Regions from separate parts of the Homo sapiens genome. Here region 2 is linked to region 1. Evidence: fine-mapped expression QTL. A gene starts in region 1. The other region holds a variant in brackets. All regions are shown on one strand. Distances are from middle to middle. Region 1 holds the start of HOXB9 (homeobox B9). Region 2 holds the start of LINC03057 (long intergenic non-protein coding RNA 3057).

Evidence for each region. PIP is the estimated chance that this variant, and not a neighbour inherited with it, causes the effect.
Region 2: its variant is the best candidate, but not a certain one, in a credible set for the expression of HOXB9 in whole blood (TOPMed, PIP 0.56).

Annotation. Positions count from the first base shown.
Region 1 is chr17:48,622,155-48,630,154 of GRCh38, forward strand. It overlaps HOXB9 (homeobox B9), which reads right to left and starts at 4,204. Exons shown (of 2, transcript NM_024017.5): 1 at 3,599-4,204; 2 at 1-981. The coding sequence starts at 4,115. The coding sequence ends at 746. It overlaps HOXB-AS4 (HOXB cluster antisense RNA 4), which reads left to right and starts at 6,544. Exons shown (of 2, transcript NR_046611.1): 1 at 6,544-6,704. RefSeq lists an enhancer at 3,057-3,734 and a silencer at 5,145-5,300.
Region 2 is chr17:48,643,602-48,655,494 of GRCh38, forward strand. LINC03057 (long intergenic non-protein coding RNA 3057) reads right to left here and starts at 3,251. Exons shown (of 2, transcript NR_186590.1): 1 at 3,004-3,251. LINC02086 (long intergenic non-protein coding RNA 2086) reads left to right here. Exons shown (of 8, transcript NR_189645.1): 1 at 1-2,761; 2 at 8,788-8,832; 3 at 9,270-9,373. RefSeq lists enhancers at 2,788-3,456, 2,895-2,944, 3,835-4,044 and a silencer at 3,165-3,344. The variant G/C (reference allele first, on the strand shown) is at 3,949.

The DNA.
Region 1 (8,000 bases):
CTTCATAAAACCACGTGCTGCCTTTTCTTGTACTTTCTAGCCCACCGGCTTGGGGGCTAGGTTTGCTCCATCTTCCCCATGGCCCTTGGCCTGAGAATAGTTGGCAACTCCATGGGAATGGTATGGCAATGCTGCAGCCTTTGGGCTGCAACACCTCACTCAGGAGTCTGCCTCTAGACATCTCCCTGGTGGGTATTTGCATTAGGGGTAGAACCCGGGCTTGCCTGACAGTCTGAGGGCTGTTTTGCCAAATTTGGTGTGCGATGGTCTGCAACTGGAGTGTCACCTCACTTGACTGAATGGTGGTTGTGAGCTCACCCCATTACTGTGTGTGGATGTCTGCTGAGCTGTGTAGAGTTGGAGTGTCCCTGGGTGACTTTTGGGTGGGTGTAGAGAAGAAACAGGCAAGCTGGAAGTGAGGGGCTAGGACTTCCCAGAAAAATTACAGGGCATACTAGGAGCTTGACTGGGGTCTCTCTTTCCTTGTGGCCCATCACATTCTTAGGAACCAACTATTTCTATCTTCTAAATCAACAAAACTTTCTCCTGACACCTAGAGAGAAGAGAGAGACAGGTAAGGGCAAAGGAAAGGAGGGAGGTTCTAGGTGCAGATAAAGGACTTGGAAGAGAGACTCCCTTCCCCATTCACTTGAATACATCCCAGACAGCACTGGCTTTGCAGTCGTCACATAACTAAGAGTGAGATGGGGAAGAGCTAGGGAGGACTGGGGGTAATCTTTAATCTTTACTCTTTGCCCTGCTCCTTATTCATTTTCTTCATTTTCATCCGCCGGTTCTGAAACCAGATTTTGACTTGTCTCTCACTCAGATTGAGGAGTCTGGCCACTTCGTGCCTACGGTCCCTGGTGAGGTACATATTGAACAGAAACTCCTTCTCTAGCTCCAGCGTCTGGTATTTGGTGTAGGGACAGCGCTTTTTCCGGGAAGAGCGAGCGTGCAGCCAGTTGGCGGAGGGGTTGGCTGAAAGAGAAGCAGCGATAGAATCAAAGAAAGGAAGGGGGTGAAGGGCCCCAGATCAAGAGGGCACTCCCTTGGTCTCCACTCCCCATCTTGCACTGGAGAAGAGGCCACCTGGGTCTTCAAGCTCCCAGGAAGGGTGTCACAGATGGGCCAGCCATTGCTATAGACACCTCCAGGTGAGAGGCTGTGTGGAAAGGATGGAGCCAAACGTGGGCCCAGGCTTCCTCAGCACTTCCAAAGCTCTGCCTACATCAAGTTCCCTCTCAATTTTTCTCTACTTGGGTCCAAACTGCTTAGGACTCAGGTCAGAGTTCAGCATGGTTGAAGTCCCACCAGCAGCACTCCCAGGCTGACTAGGGGTGGGTGGCTGACCTGAAGGGTCCTGGCTCTAGGAGGTGAGAGGAGGAGTTGGGTGGGGAAGTGAGATGTCTGTTCAGTCACTGCATTTGGGGTGTCACTTCACCCCAAGAGACCTCTCAGCCCTTCAGTCCAGTCCCAATATCCCCTGCCTTGATCACAAACAAGCTTGTGTCTCTAGACCACATGGCAGCAGGCATGTGTGTCTGCGTAGAAATCTCCCCCCCTGCCACCACCACACACCACGAATATGGGTCTGCACTTAGAGCCACAAACAGCCAGCACACTCCAATTCACACGCAATGCAATTGCAACCATTTATCAACTCCAGCTTATGGACAGGGGAGCACTGGGGGCTCACAGATAACTTATGGTTGCAATAGTCTCTCTCCTTTTCAGCTCCTGCTCAGCTCACAGTTTGGTTAACGCAAGTGCAGGGAAATTAGGGAATAAAATTGCTCCAGTCCCAAGGTGGGGAGCCAGGGGTGATGTGGAGGTAAAAGGAAGCCCTTCACAGCACACCTAGCCTTAATTGATCCTATGTGGGGGCTGGAGGGGAGAAGAGGGTAACCGAGTGGAAGAGAGGAAACAAAAATATATACAGGCTTCTCTTCTTACCTTCTCTCCCCCTACTCTGGAACTCAAAAAAGTTGCCAAATAAAGCTAAGCCAATTAAAAATAACAGCCACCAGCTACTAGCTTCCTTCTCCCCAAGTGAAAAACACTGGATTTTTTTATATAAAAAATTTGGTTCATCCTACACTAAGTACCGTGTCTTACCAATTTGCAGCGCTATTTCCTTAATGTGATTGCCTGGGATGGGACCCGCAGCCGCATTAAATATGAAAGAGGGAAAAAACTGTTAATAATTGATCCTAGCCAAATGGCTGCCTTGCCATAATGGGCTTTTCAGGCAGAATTTGGGGGTTTAGGGTGGGGGATCTGTTTGGGAGTGTGCGGGGAGGGTTGGGGAAGAATGTGTTCCCTAAATGCCAGCTCTTAGGATTCCACCTGGCAGGTTGGAGGTGACAGGACCCTGCAAGGAATGGGGCTGCTCTTTACTCTCCAGCAGGCAAGGATGCTCTAAAGGGCCCTGGGGCCACTCCGTCAATGGGAAATCTAGCAGGGCAAGGAGAGACTAAAACATCCCTACTTCCCAAAAAGAGTAAGAAACGAGGACCTGATCCACCAGCCTGCGAGTCATTGTTTGAGGCTGAGTTCCCTCACCGATGAGCCCTTCTCAACCTTAAAAATAAATAATAGGAGAACCCTCTCTTCTCATCTAGTAGCACCTCCTGAAAATCAGCCAGACTTGGCGTTCTGGCCGGGGTGCTTTTGAGGAGTGGGAGGTGACGGGAAACTACCCACAAAGGGTAAAGTTCTCCGCCTCTCTGCAACTCTCTCTTCCCCCCACCCCTCCTCTCCCCGGGGTCCCTTCGAGATGCCCCGATATTCGGAAGCGATTCCCCGACTCCCCAAGAGGCGGACAGCCCGGGCTGGGGCTCGGGAGCCCCGCAGAGAGCAGCGGGGGACCGCAGAAAAGGAAGCGGTAGCCCCTGCGAGGACGCCGAGGAGGAGAGGGGCCACCGGAGGGAAGGCTCCCGGGGAGGGGCCGGCGCATCCGGGGAGGGGGCTCAGTCACCGCGTCCTGGGCTTCCCCCGCCCCTCCTGTCGCCGGTTGCGGACTCTGCGCGGCTACAGCGCGAGATCTGCTAGGAACAATCCTCCGCCAAGCTGTTGCATCGCAAATAAAATCCTAATGAGCTCCCTCCCCCTTCCCCTTGGCCGGCTTTTACGGTCTGCGCGTGGCGCGGGGAGCTCTGCCAGCCGCACGGCCCCGGGCAGCCCAGTGCGCTCCGGCCCTTGCCCTCGCCGGCTCTCGGCCTCGCTGGCCGCTGGCCCCGGCCCCCGCCAGCTCCTCTCCCGGCCGTCGCCGGTCTCTGGCCGGGCTTTCAGCTGGGGCCTCCGGGAGAGAGGGGGAAAGAGGGCCGAGAGAGCTGCAAGTCGATCCCCGAGCCCCTGTTCCCCGCAGGACTTGGAGAAGTGGGGGCAGCGCTCCTCTGGCGGCCTCAGTCTCCCCTTCTAGAGCACGCAGCTTTCCCCTTCCCTCCGTCTTTCCTTCCTCTCCCCTCCTCCTCCCGGCCCGCTCTCCGGCCACCGCCGCAGTTTCCCTTCACATTGTCCGCAGTTTATTGCCTTTCCCCTCCCCGCCCCCCTCCTGGCCTTCGGCCTGGGTATTTCCTCACTTTTTATAACTTACTTTGATCCGGCCTCTCTTTGTCCTCGCTTCCTTCGCAAATTTTATTGTCCCCGTAGCCGGGTCTTTGATTAGACAGCACGGCCTCCCTGCCCGCCGAAGTTTCCAAACTGTACTCGGGCGTGCCCTGTTTGAGCAGCTCCCCAGGCGCGCCCAGCAGCGGCTCCGCCTTCACCGCCGCCTGGCCCTGCCCCGGGGCCGCTTCGCCGCGCGGCGCCGGCTCCAGCCAGGTGCGGAGGTACCTGCTCTCGGCCGGCGGGACGCCCTGGGGCTGGATGTAAGGGTGGTAGACGGACGGCAGGCTCCCGGACGCGTGCGGGCTCAGCGGCGCCCAGGAGGCGCCGAACACCGGCGCTTTGGGCTGGAAGCTGCACGAGGGGAACTCCAGGTGCTCCGCGTGGCCCGGCTGCCGCGAGCTCGCGTACTGGCCAGAAGGAAACTTGGCTGGAGGCGCGTCCTCACTCTCGTGACTTATGATCGAGTCGACATAATAGCTGCTAAGCGTCCCAGAAATGGACATTCTCAGACATTATCCGGGCGCTTGCAGGGGGAAGGGAAGCGCTCGCGCGGCGGCGCCCAAGCAGGGAGAGGTGGCACCCGGACCGGTGTGAGGGCTTTCGGACGCGACCCCCCCAGCCCCCCACCCTCCCACCCCCACCCCCTGCTCAACTTCTCAGCCAACAAAGTACAGTGGAGCAGCCCGTCTCAGCTCTCCTTGCAAAATGATTGGTCAAAGTTTTTCCGACTGCCTGATAAAGCGTCAGCTCCGACATAAATCAATCGGGCGAGGGGGCTGCGCTCTCGCTGTCATCCGTCCGCACCGCACTCCATATCGAGGATGGATTGTTTTATGCTGATGCAATGTGCTATCACGTCAGGGCTCCGGCGGCCACGTAACCTCAGCCCCAGCTACCGGCCGCCCGGTCCCCCCCTCCCGCTGCAGGAAGGGGGGCAGTTCTCAACATGGGGCGGCGGGGGCGGAGGAGAGGCGGAGGGAAGCGGCGGGCTGCCTTGGGAGGGACGCAGGCTGTAGAGCCCTCTCCCCAGGCGGGTCGGGGAGGGAGGGAGAGCAAGGGCGGAGGGAGGGAGAGAGCCCCAGCCCGGGGAGAAGCCATAGAGGCCCGAGAGGATACTGGAAGAGGAGGTGCTCCTGTCCCCCCACACACACCTCCACCCCGCAGGCCCTCATTTCCTCTTCTCTTTCCCCTTGACAAAAGATGTTTATTAAACAACAACAGCAGCAGCAATCCACAGGAGATGAAGTAAAATGATGAGGGGAAAAGTTGGGGATTTTAGGACGTTGTCCGCTTTGGAGGGGGCTCTCCTTGCACTCTTTGTAGAGATTTACATGACTGCGAGCTTCCCTGGGCCCCTCAGTAGCTGAGGGAGGAGGAGAGAGGTGAATAAAACGACTGAGTGTCCAAGAATCCACTATCTGTCCTGAAATTAGAAACTACTTGAGGTTAAAGGGATCCATCAGGTCCCGGAAACGTGAGCCTAGGAAAGAGTTTAATACAAGGAACCAGAGCGCCTTTACATTTATTGGGCCTTTCTCTGACTCTGGCCAGAAGGATGGATTTAAGATGGTGGTGGTGACGTGGGGGGTGGGGGTGAGGGAAGCCATTTCTCCTTTTCTCCACTGAATAACCACCCAGGCCCCTAAATTTGCCCTGATGAGGGAGCTAAATAGGAGAAAGGGTTAAGGCCACTTTCCTGAGGTGTGACCAGAGCAGAGGCCTGGGAAAGGATCCCCAGTCAGCAAGGGAAGGGGTCCCAAGTTATCTCCCCTTCCATCCAAAGAGGAAGGAGCCTGGGCTGAGTTTTCAGCCCTCCTGTACTACTCCTCTCACCTGAGGCTCCTGCTCTGGAGATTTCCAAACACCGATATAGGGGCCAGTGTGGACAGCGAGCCCATGGTCAGTCTCTTCCCCTCACTGCCTTACCCCCTGCAGACCCCTTCATTGGAGCTTCCAAATAGCCCTTTTTATATATATCTATTCTGTGGCCCTGCACAGGGACTCCCCCGGGGCCCACCGACTGGCTTCCTCGCTCCTCTCCCAGCCCCTGCTCCTCAGCTTCTGCCCTGGTTGCAGTCGCCTCTCCTGGCACTTGGGGAGGTGTGACCCCTGGACAGACCCAGTTCTCCTCTGGTTAGGCTCAGGGGTAGATTGGGGTGGATTTCTCGGCAACTCTCTGACTCTGAGTCCTAATAAGGCAGGCTGCCCTCAGTCCGGTCCTTTTAGCAAAAGAGGGGCCACTCTAACTTGAGTCCGTATCTTTTTGGCCACCTACCCCTCTGCCTTGTAGAAGGCTGCGGATCACCTCCCACACAGGCACACACTCCCACCCGCTTGTCTTTCCAAATGAAGCCATCTCGTGTCATTACACGTGAAATACGAGGGTGAAGCGCCATATTTCTTCACATTATGGCGATTTCAAAATGATTTTTTAAAGATCAATGCCGGCGCCCATCTGGCCCCCTCCTTTCCCACCCCTGCTCTCCGAGGGTGACAGCCCGGCAGATCCGTAACCAAACAGCATGAAGGTCTGCCTTTTCCATAGGACCCAAGTGGGGAAACAAAAATCCGATGCAAATTCTTCCAAGCAGAGGTTGGACGCTTGGGAAAGTCGAGGGAGCTCCCCGGACTCACCAGCGAAAAAGCTGGGCACTGAGCGAATGAATCACAGTTAAGGCAAAGCACCTGTTCTCAATTTGCCAGCCCTATGAAGTCTGCTGTTGGCTTTACCTGTCATAAATACACTCTTCAGGAAAAAAGATTCCCTCCCCCGCCATAAATAATGGTGTTATGAAGCATGGTGGGCTGAGTATATGATTTCTGTAGTATATAAATTAGGGCCTAAAAGGACATGTTTACTACGGACTGGGGTTTTTTTATTTATTGAAAAGTCACAGCGCTGGGCTGTCCTTAAGACCCAAGCAAAGCAGGCACTGCGCTCTGACTGCCGTCTTCCTGGTTCCCCTTCCCTCTCCTGCCCTGACTTTGCAGCTGCCTCTCTGCAACAAGAGAGGAGTCAAGAGGACCACTCAGTTTAGGGAAGAAGTTAGAGGAAGAAGAACACTTGGGCTGATGGCTTGTGCTCTACAAGGGTGAGTTCTCCCAGCAGACAAGATTTGGGTTTGTGGGTTGCTGTCTGTCTGAGGAGTTGCCCTTTATTCCCTGGTGGCTCCTGAGTGCTGGGTGAGAAGGGGACTTAGGCCTCTTTTCTGAGATCGGAACTTAGCCTTTGCTCATGAAGAAGCTGGAGAGTGGAGACAATTTTAAAATGACAGGTTTTGGAGGTCTTGGTCTTCTCAGGGAGCAATGACTCCAGAGGAAAGAGAATGAACTGGCCCCTAAGCCCTGTAGTCTGCATCCCAGCTCTTTGCCGTCCAGGTAAATGCACCAAGCAAGGAGTCCCACCCCAGCCAAGCTTTCTGGAAAGCACTGCTGCCCCAAACTGGAGTTCAACTCCAGCTCAGGCAAATGATTAAAGGGTCAGCTGAGAGACTGTGGACTCCCTCCCACCAAAAAAGCCTTGTTTTCTCCCCAGACAATGGTACCCACCATGAAGGAGGATAGCAAACAGGATTGTGGCTCCTGGAGCCCAGCTTCCAAAGACACTTAGTAAAGGGGTTGCTTCAGTGGGGGTCACCTTATCCTAAGAGAGCAAAACTGCTCCATACCCCACCCCCAATCCTAAACAGAAAGAAGGAAAACCCTGCCTTCCCTTGCAGCCTTTTGCCATTCCCTGCACTGGAGCCTCGCCTGAACACAGCTGGGGCCAGTAGCTGGTAGCTTGGAGAAGGGCAAGCAGGGAAAAAAGCGCAGCTCCTGGCCACACTGGGGCCCAGAGCAGCCAACAGTGAGGCCGAGGTTTGAAGAGCAGAGGCCGACCAGCCGGTGAGTGCCTATGCTGTGGGGGTGACTTTTGGAAGGGTCCTTGTCAGTAAGAAGAGAGAGAAAATCTAGAGGAAGGGAAGGAAATGGGAGAAGAAAGAAAAACAATAAGTGAGAATGGGGAAAAATAGTTTGTTTTTAATTAATAAGCTTAGCTGAAATTTACGCGTGTTTAATGTAAATAGATGTGTGTGTCCTATATGTATATTTCAAATCAATATTTCTGTATGGGGAACCCAGTGTGCAAATGCACTCTGCTCTATACTGTATATAGAATATGTAATAAATAAATCTGCCCAACTATGAAACTTGCTGTGCTTGGGCGTTCGTGTATGCAGGATCTAATCGTGCATATGTGGATGCATGCATAACCTCTGTGAGTGATGGAGGTTTCTGATTCTGCTCGTGTAAGAAGATCAGTTACCCAAAAGGTTGTGTGTACATTTTTATAACCATCACACACCTATGGAAAAGGCAAAAGCTTGGGTATTTGTGTACTTGAATTA
Region 2 (11,893 bases), 23 kb after region 1:
AACTAAAAGCCCTGAGATGCTTGCCCTTTGCTTTACAGACAGTGATGGCAAAGAAATACTGCCACCAGGGTGTTTTTAAAGGTGAAGGTTGACCTGATAAGCACTGAGATCAGACAAAGGAAAAAAAAAGTAAAGCATTTGGTCTTTCAGTTTTCTGGCTAAATCTGGCATCATTTTCCAGACACAAACTTCTCTGATTAATCCAAATAGCTCTCAACCTGAAGTTCAAGGAATTTGAAATCCTCTGAAATTGTGGGATTTCACAGTTCTAAAAGGAAGTCAGCTGTCACTTTCTGAGAAGCCCTGGGAGGGGAAGGAAGCAAGAGGAGGTATATGAGGAAAGGGGGTGAGAGGCCCCAGATCTAGCTCTCTAGACATTTAGTGCTGGACCCCCAAGCTCTGAAACTCAAGCTGACCCCATCTACACATTGCCAAACTGAGTAGAAAGTTGCAAGGCAGTCAAGGAGATAAATTTTATTTACTGCTTTAAGGATGAGTTTGGGTGTCTAAGCAGATTATAAATCTGGGTGTTTTCAGTATTTGTTTCTTTCTTTCAACTATTACTGATTTTTGGCCCAGAGTAGTTTCTGGGGCCCTTGGGGCAGTTAGGCAAGAGAGGGACTCAGACCTCCAGTCCCTTGATCTTGCCTTTACTTGGTGAAGAGCCCAAGATTCTCTACTGGCAGGCAAGGTCAGAACCAAGTTGGCCCTAGGCCTTGCCCCAACCCCCCAGCCCTCAGGACTCCTTTCTCTGAGACCAGGCCTCTGGCCAAACTGCAGACTCCCTCCACACCCGGTCACTGGAATAATGATGGCATTTTTGATTTCTCCCATTTTTGAAAACTATAGAAGCCCCAAGGAGGAAGGAGGTACCACTGGATCTTGGGGTGCTGGTGGGGGATTCTGGAATCAAATATCCTCTAAGCCTGTGAGGACAAGGTCTACTAGGATGACTTGGTGTCAATTACAGCTCTGAGTGCTGCCTGGATAGGTCAAATATTCCCTCCTTTCCCTCCTCATTCCTTCCGTTCAAGCCCAGAAAATTCACAGATTTTCTGTGTGGAGAGAGAGAAAAAAAATGGGCAAAACCTGGGAGTAAAAGGGAGATGAGGGAGAAGAAAATGAGGGAGAGAAACCAATAGACTAAAACAATGAAACTCTCTAACCCAACAGCACTTTAAGCTTGACTTTTAATCTGGCCAGAAAAAAAAAGAAGTTGGAGGCAGGGTGGGTGGGATGTGAAGTTCCCAGCCCAACAGATCCTCCTGTTGTCACGGGCTCTGTGCGTTCCCAGCTGGTGAGAACCCTGTCTGTCCTGGGGGTGGGAGGGATGTCCTGGGTCTTTCAAGTTGCAGTGTGGGGAGTGAGGCTCTTTCTAAGGGTCTCTGAGGTCTCCCACAACACCTTGCTTGGACTAGCAAAACCTTTCTTTGCATTTCCTCTGGGGCACTGTGTATGTGTATCCCTGTGTAGGGTGGTGTTCTAAACCACCGCAGAAGGTGAGCAATTCTCCTCCCAGCGAGCCAAAGGCTATATGTTTGGGGTGGAGGAGGCTTCATCCCTTCTGGACTGGAGAAATGGGGACTTGGAGCCAAGTGCGCCAGACTTTAGGGAAAGAGAGGAGCTCCAGCTCCAAAAGGGATTTGGAGGGAAGATCCTATCAGGAAAGGCCCCCCAGACTTGCTTCCTCAAAGGGTTAGGGAAGTGCACTGAGAAAAGAGAACTTTCACTTAACTCTTCTCCATTAGGCATCTTTGTGCTTCCATTTGTACTGGAAAGCACAGTCCTGGGCAGTCAGTTGCACATTCCGCCTCTGGTATGTGGACTATGTGAAATATACCATGCAATGTTCTACTTTGCGAGGGGGGAGGCATATAGATGAAAATATGAATTTCCCTTCTACTGCCTTTATTATTGAGCACAGTTGGGAGCACATAATTTCACATCTCTTTCGCATGTCTGTATAAATCCTCAATCTTTAAACGGTGCTTGACTACTCCGAGAGGCACAGTTGCTGTCATATAAGATTCCTAGCCGACTCCGGCGAGTTACTAATTCCTCTCAGACTCCACAATACCCACGATGCACGATGCACACCCCTTTATGCTTGCTTTTCTTTACATGCCTTTTCAAAGGCGAATAATTTTTGTATTGACCCATGAGTCAGTCCATACAGTTTGAAATCCTTTGGATGCCCTCTGCCCACTCCCATAAACAACAGGTCCCTCCACAAAAATGCACATGCCCCGTTTTTGTGAGTGTGGGTTTCAAATAAGATGGCGTCTCCTGGCATTCCTTAGATTCAGATACACGCTCTCTCAGGCAGGAGGCTGCTCACAGTCCAGAGGGGAAGAAAACCTATGAGGCCCCCAAAAGCCAAAGCAAGAGACTCCCCCAAGTATTCTGCCCCCTCCACGCCAGGAGGCAGCTAGAGAGACAGCGCGCGGGAGAGCTGATTCTGCACCTTGGGGAGCTGGGGGCTTCTGTCTAGACCAAGAGTTCCAGGCCAATTCCTAATTTCCGTTAGGAAAAGTGGCCCTTCTTCCATCCCAAGCGATTCCTCACCCCCAAGGCTGCTCAGGGCGTCTGGCCCTTGCCTCTCTCACGGCATCCGCCTGGAATCCGGGGTTGTGAGCAGGAGGCCCAGGACGCAGGGCCTCAGGCTGGGCGGGGCACTGAGCACTCGGCTCTGGGGAGCCAGGGTTTCCGGTAGAACGAGGGGAGGCGACCCCCTTTCCCCACACACACACCTGTTGGAGAGGTAGGGTCGGGTGCCAGCGGACAGGGAGGCCAAGGCGTTTTCGGGTGCGCCCCGAGGCCCTACCCGGGAAGCTGCCTCGGTCTGGAGATCAAGGTTAAGCCGGTGGCCCCGGGAAGCCCACGCCTGCCACGGGCGGTTGGTCCTGAAAGCTCGGGCCACGGGGCTGCCCAGCTTGGAGAGGGGCCTTTCACGCCGCAGTCCCCAGCTGCGAGAGGAAGGGCTGCGCCCGCCTCCTCACCTACCTCTCGGAACCACGCCGTCCCCCGCGCGTCTTCGTAGACTGCAGGAGTCCAGGGCGTCTGGGGACTGTGACGGCGCCCAAGGCGGGGGATGTGGCGGCTCTGGGTCGCCGCCTTCTGCCCCCGCCTCTGTGAGGCCTCTCGAGGCAGTGTCTGTGTCTGGGGCAGCGACGCCGACGGCGCTGGGGGCGCGAAGGGGCTCACGCTCCTGCGTTCCCCTGGCGCCGGTGAGTGGCGGGCGAGGACAGGGTCCGGGAGGGGGATAGGCGAGAGCGCTTCCTGCCTCCGCCCGGGCGGGGCTCGGCCGTCTCACCTGCCCCCACCCACGGCGCCGTCGGATCCCAGAGCGGCTGGTGAGGAGATGGGCCTGGCGCGCCGCGGGGAGGCCAGAGGCGCGGAGGAGCAGCGCCCAGATGGCCGGAGAGAGCAGAGAGAGAGAGAAGAGAGAGAGAAGAGAGAGAGAGAGAGAAGAGAGAGAGAGGGAGAGAGGCAGAGAGGGAGAGAGGGAGGGAGAGAGGGAGGGAGGGAGGGAGGGAGAGAGAGAGAGAGAGAGAGAGAGAGAGAGAGAATATGAGAATATGAGAATATAAAAGGCAAGAGAGAAGCAGATCCAAGGGCGCGCCCAGAGAAACATCAAATGCACAAATAGACAAAAGAGGTAGAGGAGAAAGCTGAGTCCCAGGGGCTGAAAGAAGCCATGGGCGTCTGAAGCGAGCGACAAGTTATCCTTGGGAGTTGGAAATGTGAGAGGGAGGGGCGAGGCCGAAGGAGGCTGAGAAGGGGAGGGGGCGCTCACACCCTGGGCGGGAGGCGACTGATCCACACTTAGGGCTCCGAATCCGGAGAAAGAGAGCGCCGGACCCTCCTCCGCCCACCTCCCGCCCCAGCCGCAGCCCAGCGACTTCCCGCCATCCTCGGCCACCGAGCGGCTCCTGCCTGGGGTTGTTC[G/C]ACCGGGATGGCTGCACCAGGCTGAAGGTTGTCCCTCTACCTGCCTCCTTTCTTCTGTTCCCTGTGCCTTACATGGGTTCCTCCCTATTCTATGAACCCAGAGGGAACGACCTTGGCCAAGGTTAGAGAAGGAGCTTGAAAGTTTCACTTTCCATCTTAGCCCTCAGGACGCCTTTGCGTTTTGGCCCTTCGTTAGCGTGCTATCCTGGAATTGCAGGCTCTTCTCTTTATTTCTGAGACCCAAATAGAGGTTTAACCTCCTTAAAATCAGTGAAACTACGACAAACAGTGGCATTCCTGGCTGTCTGGTCTCTAAGGAGTGCCCCCCCTCCCTGACCTCAGCCCTGAGACCCTGCTTCCTCCTCAACCTGCATGGGACTGGGGACACCCCCTCACAATCCAGTCCCTTCCTGCAGGTGGTTGTCCAGGGGGCATGTAGAGGTGTGCCTGAGCTCTGTGTCCTAAGCCTGGCTCTGCCACTGACTTCAGCCCCCACCCCTTCTCCTTTTAGGCCTCAGTTTTTCCTCTGTAAAATGGGCAGAGTGATTTTACAAGTGATTTTACCAAGTGAGAACTGTTGAAATATCTTACTATAATTGTGGATTTGTCCATTTCTCCTTTCAATTCTATCATTTTCGGTGCTTCATATATTTTTGAAGCTCTGTTATTAGGTGTGTACATTTAAGGTTGATGTGTCTTCCTAGGTGTGTACCACATTTAGATTTAGGATTGATGTGTCTTCTTTTTTGAGATGAAGTCTTGATCTGTCACCCAGGCTGGAGTGCAATGGTGCAATCTCGGCTCACTGCAACCTCCGCCTCTTGAGTTCAAGCGATTCTCCCACTTCAGCCTCCCGAGTAGCTGGGACCACAGGTGTGTGCCACCACGCCCAGCTAATTTGTGTAGTTTTAGTAGAGACGGGTTTTCACCATGTTGGCCAGGCTGGTCTCGGCTCCTGACGTCAGGTGATCCGCTTGCCTCAGCCTCCCAAAGTGCTGGGATTAGAGGTGTGAGCCACGGCTCCTAGCCATGATATGTCTTCTTATGCTTTGCTTCTGCAGCCTCCTCTCATTTGCAGGTTCTGTTGAGCTTGAACCGCTGAGAGAAAAATGCATCCAAATGGGAATTTTATTCTATATCCACGTAAACATGAATATAGAAATATGACAAAACTAAATTTTGCTTCCAAAATGTTTTTGTTTTGTTTTGTTTTTGTTTTTTTGTTTGTTTGTTTTTTCTGAGACAGAGTTTCGCTCTTGTTGCCCAGGCTGGAGTGCAATGGCACAATCCCAGCTCACCGCAACCTCTGCCTCCCGGGTTCTCCTGCCTCAGCCTCCCTAGTAGCTGGGATTACAGGCATGTGCCACCATGCGCAGCTAATTTTTTGTATTTTTAATAGAGACGGGGTTTCTCCATGTTGGTCAGGCTGGTCTCGAACTCCCGACCTCAGGTGATCCGCCCGCCTCAGCCTCCCAAAGTGCTGAGATTACAGGCATGAGCCACTGCACCCGGCCAACGCCCAGCTAATTTTGTATTTTTAGTAGAGATGGGGTTTCTCCAGTTCGTCAGGCTGGTCTCGAACTCCCTACCTCAGGTCATCCGCCCGCCTCAGCCTCCCAAAGTGCTGGGATTACAGGCGTGAGCCACCATGCCCGGCCCCAGAATTTTTTCTATTTGGGTCTATTTTTCTACTTTTTCTTCACTTTTTGTTGATATATAGTATTATAGAACCTAATATTAAACCTCTGGCTCAATATATTTTTGCATAGATCCCATCTGTGTAACCACCACCTAGATCAAGATGTTTCCGGCTTACCAGAAGGCCCCATTGTAACTCCTACCAATCAATAGCTCTCTGGTCAATCCCTCCATACCCCCTAACAATTATTTGGCTTTCTATCACCATAGATTAGTTTTGTCTAATCCTTCAACTTCATATAAACATAAGTATGTATTCTTTTGTCTGGCTTCATCTGCTCAGTATTACTTGTGTGGGACTCATCCATGGTGTTGTATATGGCAGCAGTTCATTCATTTTATCATTGTGTCATATTAGTTGTATGAATATATTACAATGTATTTAACCTGTTTGGCTCTTGGTGGACTTAAGGGTTATTTTCAGTTTGGAGCTATAATGAAAAAGCTGTTATGAACATTACATCTGTGTCTTTTGATGGATGCCTGGACTTGGAGACCCAGGAGTGGAAATGCTGGATAACAGAGTAGGAAAATGTTTGTTTGTTAAATAATGACAGTTTTCCAAAGTGGTTGACCAGTTTACACTCCCACTAGTAATGTGTGAGATCCATAGAGAAGTAAGCTTTACAAAAAAAAAAAATGACAGAGAGGACTCAGGATCCAGTTACTGCATATCCCTACCAACACCTGACACTGTCTCTCTTCATTCTGGTGGGTTTGTGGTAATCTTGCAATGAGGTTTTTTGCTTGTTTGCTTTTCGGAGTTGTTTTTTTTTTTTTTTTTTGTACATTTAAAAAATTGTGGTAAAAACATATAATAAATTTTACCATCTTAACCTTGTTTAAGTGTACAATTCAGTATGTTAAGCACATTCACACTGTTGTGCCACAGATCTCTAGAATATTTCCATCTTTCAAAACGGGACTCAATACCCACTGAGTAAAAACCGCCCCCCCATTCCCCTCTTTCCCCAGCACCTGGCAATTATCATTTTACTTTGTTTCTATAAGTTTGAATACTTTAGATACCTCATATAAGTGGAATCATACTGTATTTGTCTTTTTCTGACTGATTTGTTTCACTTTGCATGTCTTCAAGTTTCACCCACACTGTAGCATGTGACAGGATTTCTTTATTTTTAAAGGCTAAGTAATATTCCATTATATTTATATACTACATTTTGCTTATCCATTCATCCATTGATGGCCGTTTAGTTTGCTCCCACCTCTTAGCTGTTGTGAACAGTGCTGCAATGAATATGGGTGTGCAAGTATCTCCTCAAGCTCTCTCTTGCTCTCAGTCCTTTTGGGTATATATTAAGAAGTAGTATTGGCCAGGTGCAGTGGCTCATGCCTGTAATCCCAGCACTTTGTGAGGCCGAGGCAGGTGGATCACCTGAGGTTAGGAGTTCGAGACCAGCCTGACCAACATGGTGAAACCCCATCTCTACTAAAAACACAAAATTAGCCGGGCATGATGGCGGGTACCTGTAATCCCAGCTACTCGGAAGGCTGAGGCAGGAGAGTCACTTGAACCTGGGAGGCGGTGGTTGCAGTGAGCCAAGATCGCACCATTGCACTCCAACCTGGGCAACAAGAGCAGAACTCCATCTCAAAATAAATAAATAAATAAATAAATAAATAAATAAATAAATAAATGAAGTAGTATTGCTGAGTCATATGGTAATCCTATTTTTAATTTTTCTGAGGAATCTGCATACTGTTTTCCGTAGTGGCTGCACCATTTTACAGTCCCACCAACAGAGCACAGCGTACAAATTACTCCACATCCTTGTCAGCACCTGTTAATTTTTGTTTTGTTTTGTTTTGTTTTTTGATAGTGTCTATCCTAATGGGTGTGAGGTGATGGCTCACTGTAGTTTTTTGTTCTTTGGCTTTTTTTCTTTTCTTTTTTTCGAGACAGAGTCTCGCTCTGTTGCCCAGGCTGGAGTGCAGTGGCGCAATCTCGGCTCACTGCAACCTCCGCCTCCTGGGTTCACGCCATTCTCCTCCCTCAGCCTCCCGAGTAGCTGGGACTACAGGCACCCACCACTACGCCTGGCTAATTTTTTGTATTTTTAGTAGAGACGGGGTTTCACCGTGTTAGCCAGGATGGTCTCGATCTCCTGACCTCGTGATCCGCCCACCTCGGCCTCCCAAAGCGCTGGGATTACAGGCTTGAGCCACTGGGCCTGGCCTTTTTTTTTTTTTTTTTTTTAAGATAGGGTCTCTCTCTGTCACCTAGGCCAGAGTACAGTGGCACAATCATAGCTCACTGCAGCCTTGAACTTCTGGGCTCAAGTGATCCTCCCGCCTCAGCCTCCCAAGTATCTGGGACTACAGGCGTGTGCCACCACTCCTGGCTTATTTAAAAAAGCACTGGGATTACAGGCATGAGCCTCCATGCACAGCTGTGGGAAGAGTTCTGATACAAATTCAATTTCTTGCCGGGCACAGTGGCTCACGCCTGTAATCCCAGCACTTTGGGAGGCCAAGGCAGGTGGATCACCCGAGGTCTGGAGTTTGAGACCACCTTGACCAACATGGAGAAACACTGTCTCTACTAAAAATACAAAATTAGCCGGGCGTGGTGGCACATGCTTGTAATCCCAGCTACTCGGGAGGCTGAGGCAGGAGAATCACTTGAACCAGGGAGGCAGAGGTTGCTGTGAGCCAAGATCGCGCCGTTGCACTACAGCCTGGGCAACAAGAGCAAAACTCCGTCTCAAAAAAAAAAAAAAAATTCAATTTCTTTTCATACATAAGACTATTCAGATTATATATTTCTTCTTGGGAAAGCTTTGGTAGTTTGTGTTTTTCAATAAATTTGTTAATGTATTCCATAGTGTTGAGTTTATTTGCATATAGTTGTTCCTAATATTTCCTTAGTATCTTCTTTTTAATGTCTATATGATCTGTAGTGATGTTCATTCATTCCTGATAATGGTAATTTGTGTTTTTTCTTTTTTTCTTGATCAGTCTGCCTTTTAAAAAACTGGCTGTTCTTAAAACTGGCTGGTTTCATTTTCTGTATTGTTTACACATTTTCTATTTCAGTAATTTTCACTCATCTATATTATTTCCTTCCTTCTGCTTACTTTGGGTTTAATTTGCTCTTTTATTTTTTTCTAACTTCTTAAGGTGCAAGCTTAAAGTGTTGCTGCCAGACCTTTCTTCTCTTCTAATGTAAGTATTTGATGCTATAATGTCCCTGTGAGCACTTCCTTAACTGCATTTACACTTTGTGACATGTGGTATTGTTCAATTTCCTTTAGTTCAAAATATTTTCTAATTTTCTTCATGCTTTCTTATTTGATCTACGGGTTAAGTTTGTGTTGTTTCATTTCCAGATGTTTTGGCTATTGTTGTTATTGATTTTCAGTTTACTTCTGTTCTGGTCAGGGAACATAATTTATATAATTTCAATCCTTCTCAATTTATTGAGAATTAATTTATGGCTCAGATTATGGTCTATTTTGGTGAATGTTCCATGTACACTTGAAAAGAATGTGGACTCCGCTATTGCTGAGTGGAATATCTGTAAAGATCGATAAGGTCAAAGTATTTGATGTTGTTCAAATCTTCTGTATACTTACTGATTTTCTTTTTACTTCTTCTATCAGTTACCAAGTGAAGAATGTTGAAATATCCAACTATAATTTGTGGATTTCTCCTTTCAATGCTATCATTTTTGGTGCTTCATGTATTTTTGAAGCTCTATTATTAGGTATGTACCACATTTAGGATTGATATATTTTCTTAGTGAAATGACCCCTTTGTCATTATGTAATGCTCTTCTTTGTCCATGGCTATAGTCCTTGTTCTAAAGCGTAACTTATTTTCTAATATATATATATATATATATATATATATATACATATATATACTAGAATATATATACAATAGATTATGTATCTATATTCTATATATGTATATATATACTAGTATGTATATGTGTGTGTGTGTGTGTGTGTGTGTGTGTGTATATATATATATATATATATATATATATATATATATATATATGGCCAGCGTGGTGGCTCATGCCTGTAATCCCAGCACTTTGGGAGGCCGAGGTGGGCAGATCTTTTGAGTCCAGGAGTTTGAGACAGACTGGCCAACATGGCAAAACCCCACCTCTACTAAAGTATACAAATTATGCCAGACGCGGTGGCTCACACCTGTAATCACAGCAGTTTAGGAGGCCGAGGCGGGTGGATCACTTGAGGTCAGCAGTTTGAGACCAGCCTGGCCAACATGGTGAAACCTCATCTCTACTAAAAATACAAAAATTAGCCTGGTGTGGTGGTGCATGCCTGTAATCCCAGCTACTCTGGAGACTGAGGCAGGAGAATTGCATGAACCCAGGAGGCAGAGGTTGCAGTGAGCCGAGATGGCACCATTGCACTCCAGCAATAGAGCGAGACTCTGTCTCAAAAAATAAAAATAAAAATAAAAAAATAACCGGGCGTGGTGGCGTGTGCCTGTAATCCCAGCCTCTGAGGAGGCTGAGGCACAAGAATCTCTTGAACCTGGGAGGTGAAGGTTGCAGTGAGCCATGATCACCACCACTGCACTCCAACCTGGGCAACAGAGATCCTGTCTCAAAAAAATATATATATATATCATATTAATATAGTCACTCAAACTTTTTTTTGATGTGAATGGGAATTTTTATCCTTTTATTGTTGATCTATCTGTGTCTCTATATTTAAAAGCGATTTATTGTGGGCAGAATATGGTTGAGTCTTGTGTTTGTTTGTTTGTTTGTTTGTTTTTGAGATGGAGTCTTGCTCTGTCACCCAGGCTGGAGTACAGTGGTGCAATCTCGGCTCACTGCAAGCTCCGCCTCCCGGGTTCATGCGGTTCTCCAGCCTCAGCCTCCTGAGTAGCTAGGACTACAGGCGAGTCTTGTGTTTTTATTCAGTCTGACAATCTCTACTCTTATATTGATATTTAAACCTATTGACTTGGTTAAGTTGAAATCTACCATCTTGCTATCTGTTTTTTATTTATACTATCTGTTATTTGTTCCCCTTTTCCTCTTTTTCTGCCTTTTTTTAGATTGAATATGTTTTAAGATTTCTTTTTGTTGTTGTTGTTTTGTTTTTGAGACGGAGTTTCATTCTTGTTCCCCAGGCTAGAGTGCAATGGCACAATCTTGGCTCACTGAAACCTCCGCCTCCTGGGTTCAAGCGATTCTCCTGTCTCAGCCTCTGGAGCAGCTGGGATTACAGGCGCATGCCACCATGCCCGGCTAATTTTTGTATTTTTAGTAGGGATGGGGTTTCACCATGTTGGCCAGGCTGGTCTCGAACTCCTGACCTCAGGTGATCTGCCAGCCTCGGCCTCCCAAAGTGCTGGAATTACAGGTGTGAGTCACTGGGCCTGGTCAGGATTTCTTTCATTTCAACTAACTGTTGGCTTATTAACCCTACTTTTTTGTTTTAATTTTTAGTGGTTACTGTTATTTTAATGTATTAGTCAGATTTTTCCAGAAAAACAAAACCTATAGGAGATAGATAGGTAGATAGATAGATAGATAGATAGACAGACAGAGGAGGATTTACTATAAGGAATTGGCTTGCATGATTATGGAGGCTGAGAAGTCCCAAGATCTGCAGTTGACAAGCTGGGGACCCAGGAGCATCAGTGGCATAACTCCAGTCTGAATCTGTGTCTAAAGGCTGGAGAAGATCAGTGTTCCAGCTCAAAAACATTCAGGCAGGGAGAGCCTTCCACTACTGGCAGGAGCGCCTTTTTGTTCTTGTCAGTTCTTCAATCGATTGGATGTGGTCCACCCATATTAGGGAGGGCAATGTGCTTTACTCAGTCTATTGATTCAAATAATGTCATGCAGAAACACCCTTGTAGACGTACCCAGAATAATGTTTAACTGAATATCTGGCACCCCATGGCCTAGTCAAGTTGACACATAAAATTAACCATCACATTTGAGATTTATAATTTGCATCTTTAACTTATCACGGTCTATCTGCAAAGAATATTATATCACTTAGCTGGGCGTAGTGCTGTGTGCCTATAGTCCCAGCTACTCAGGAGGCTAAGTGGGGAGGATTGCTTGAGCCCTGAAGTTCGAGGCTGCAGTGAGCTGCGATCACATCACTGCTCTCCAGCCTGGGCTACAGAGAAAGAGCTTGTCTCTAAAAAAATTAAAAATAAAATAAAAAGAATATTACCTCATGTATGGTGATACAATAGTATACTTCTATTTCCTTCTCTTTTG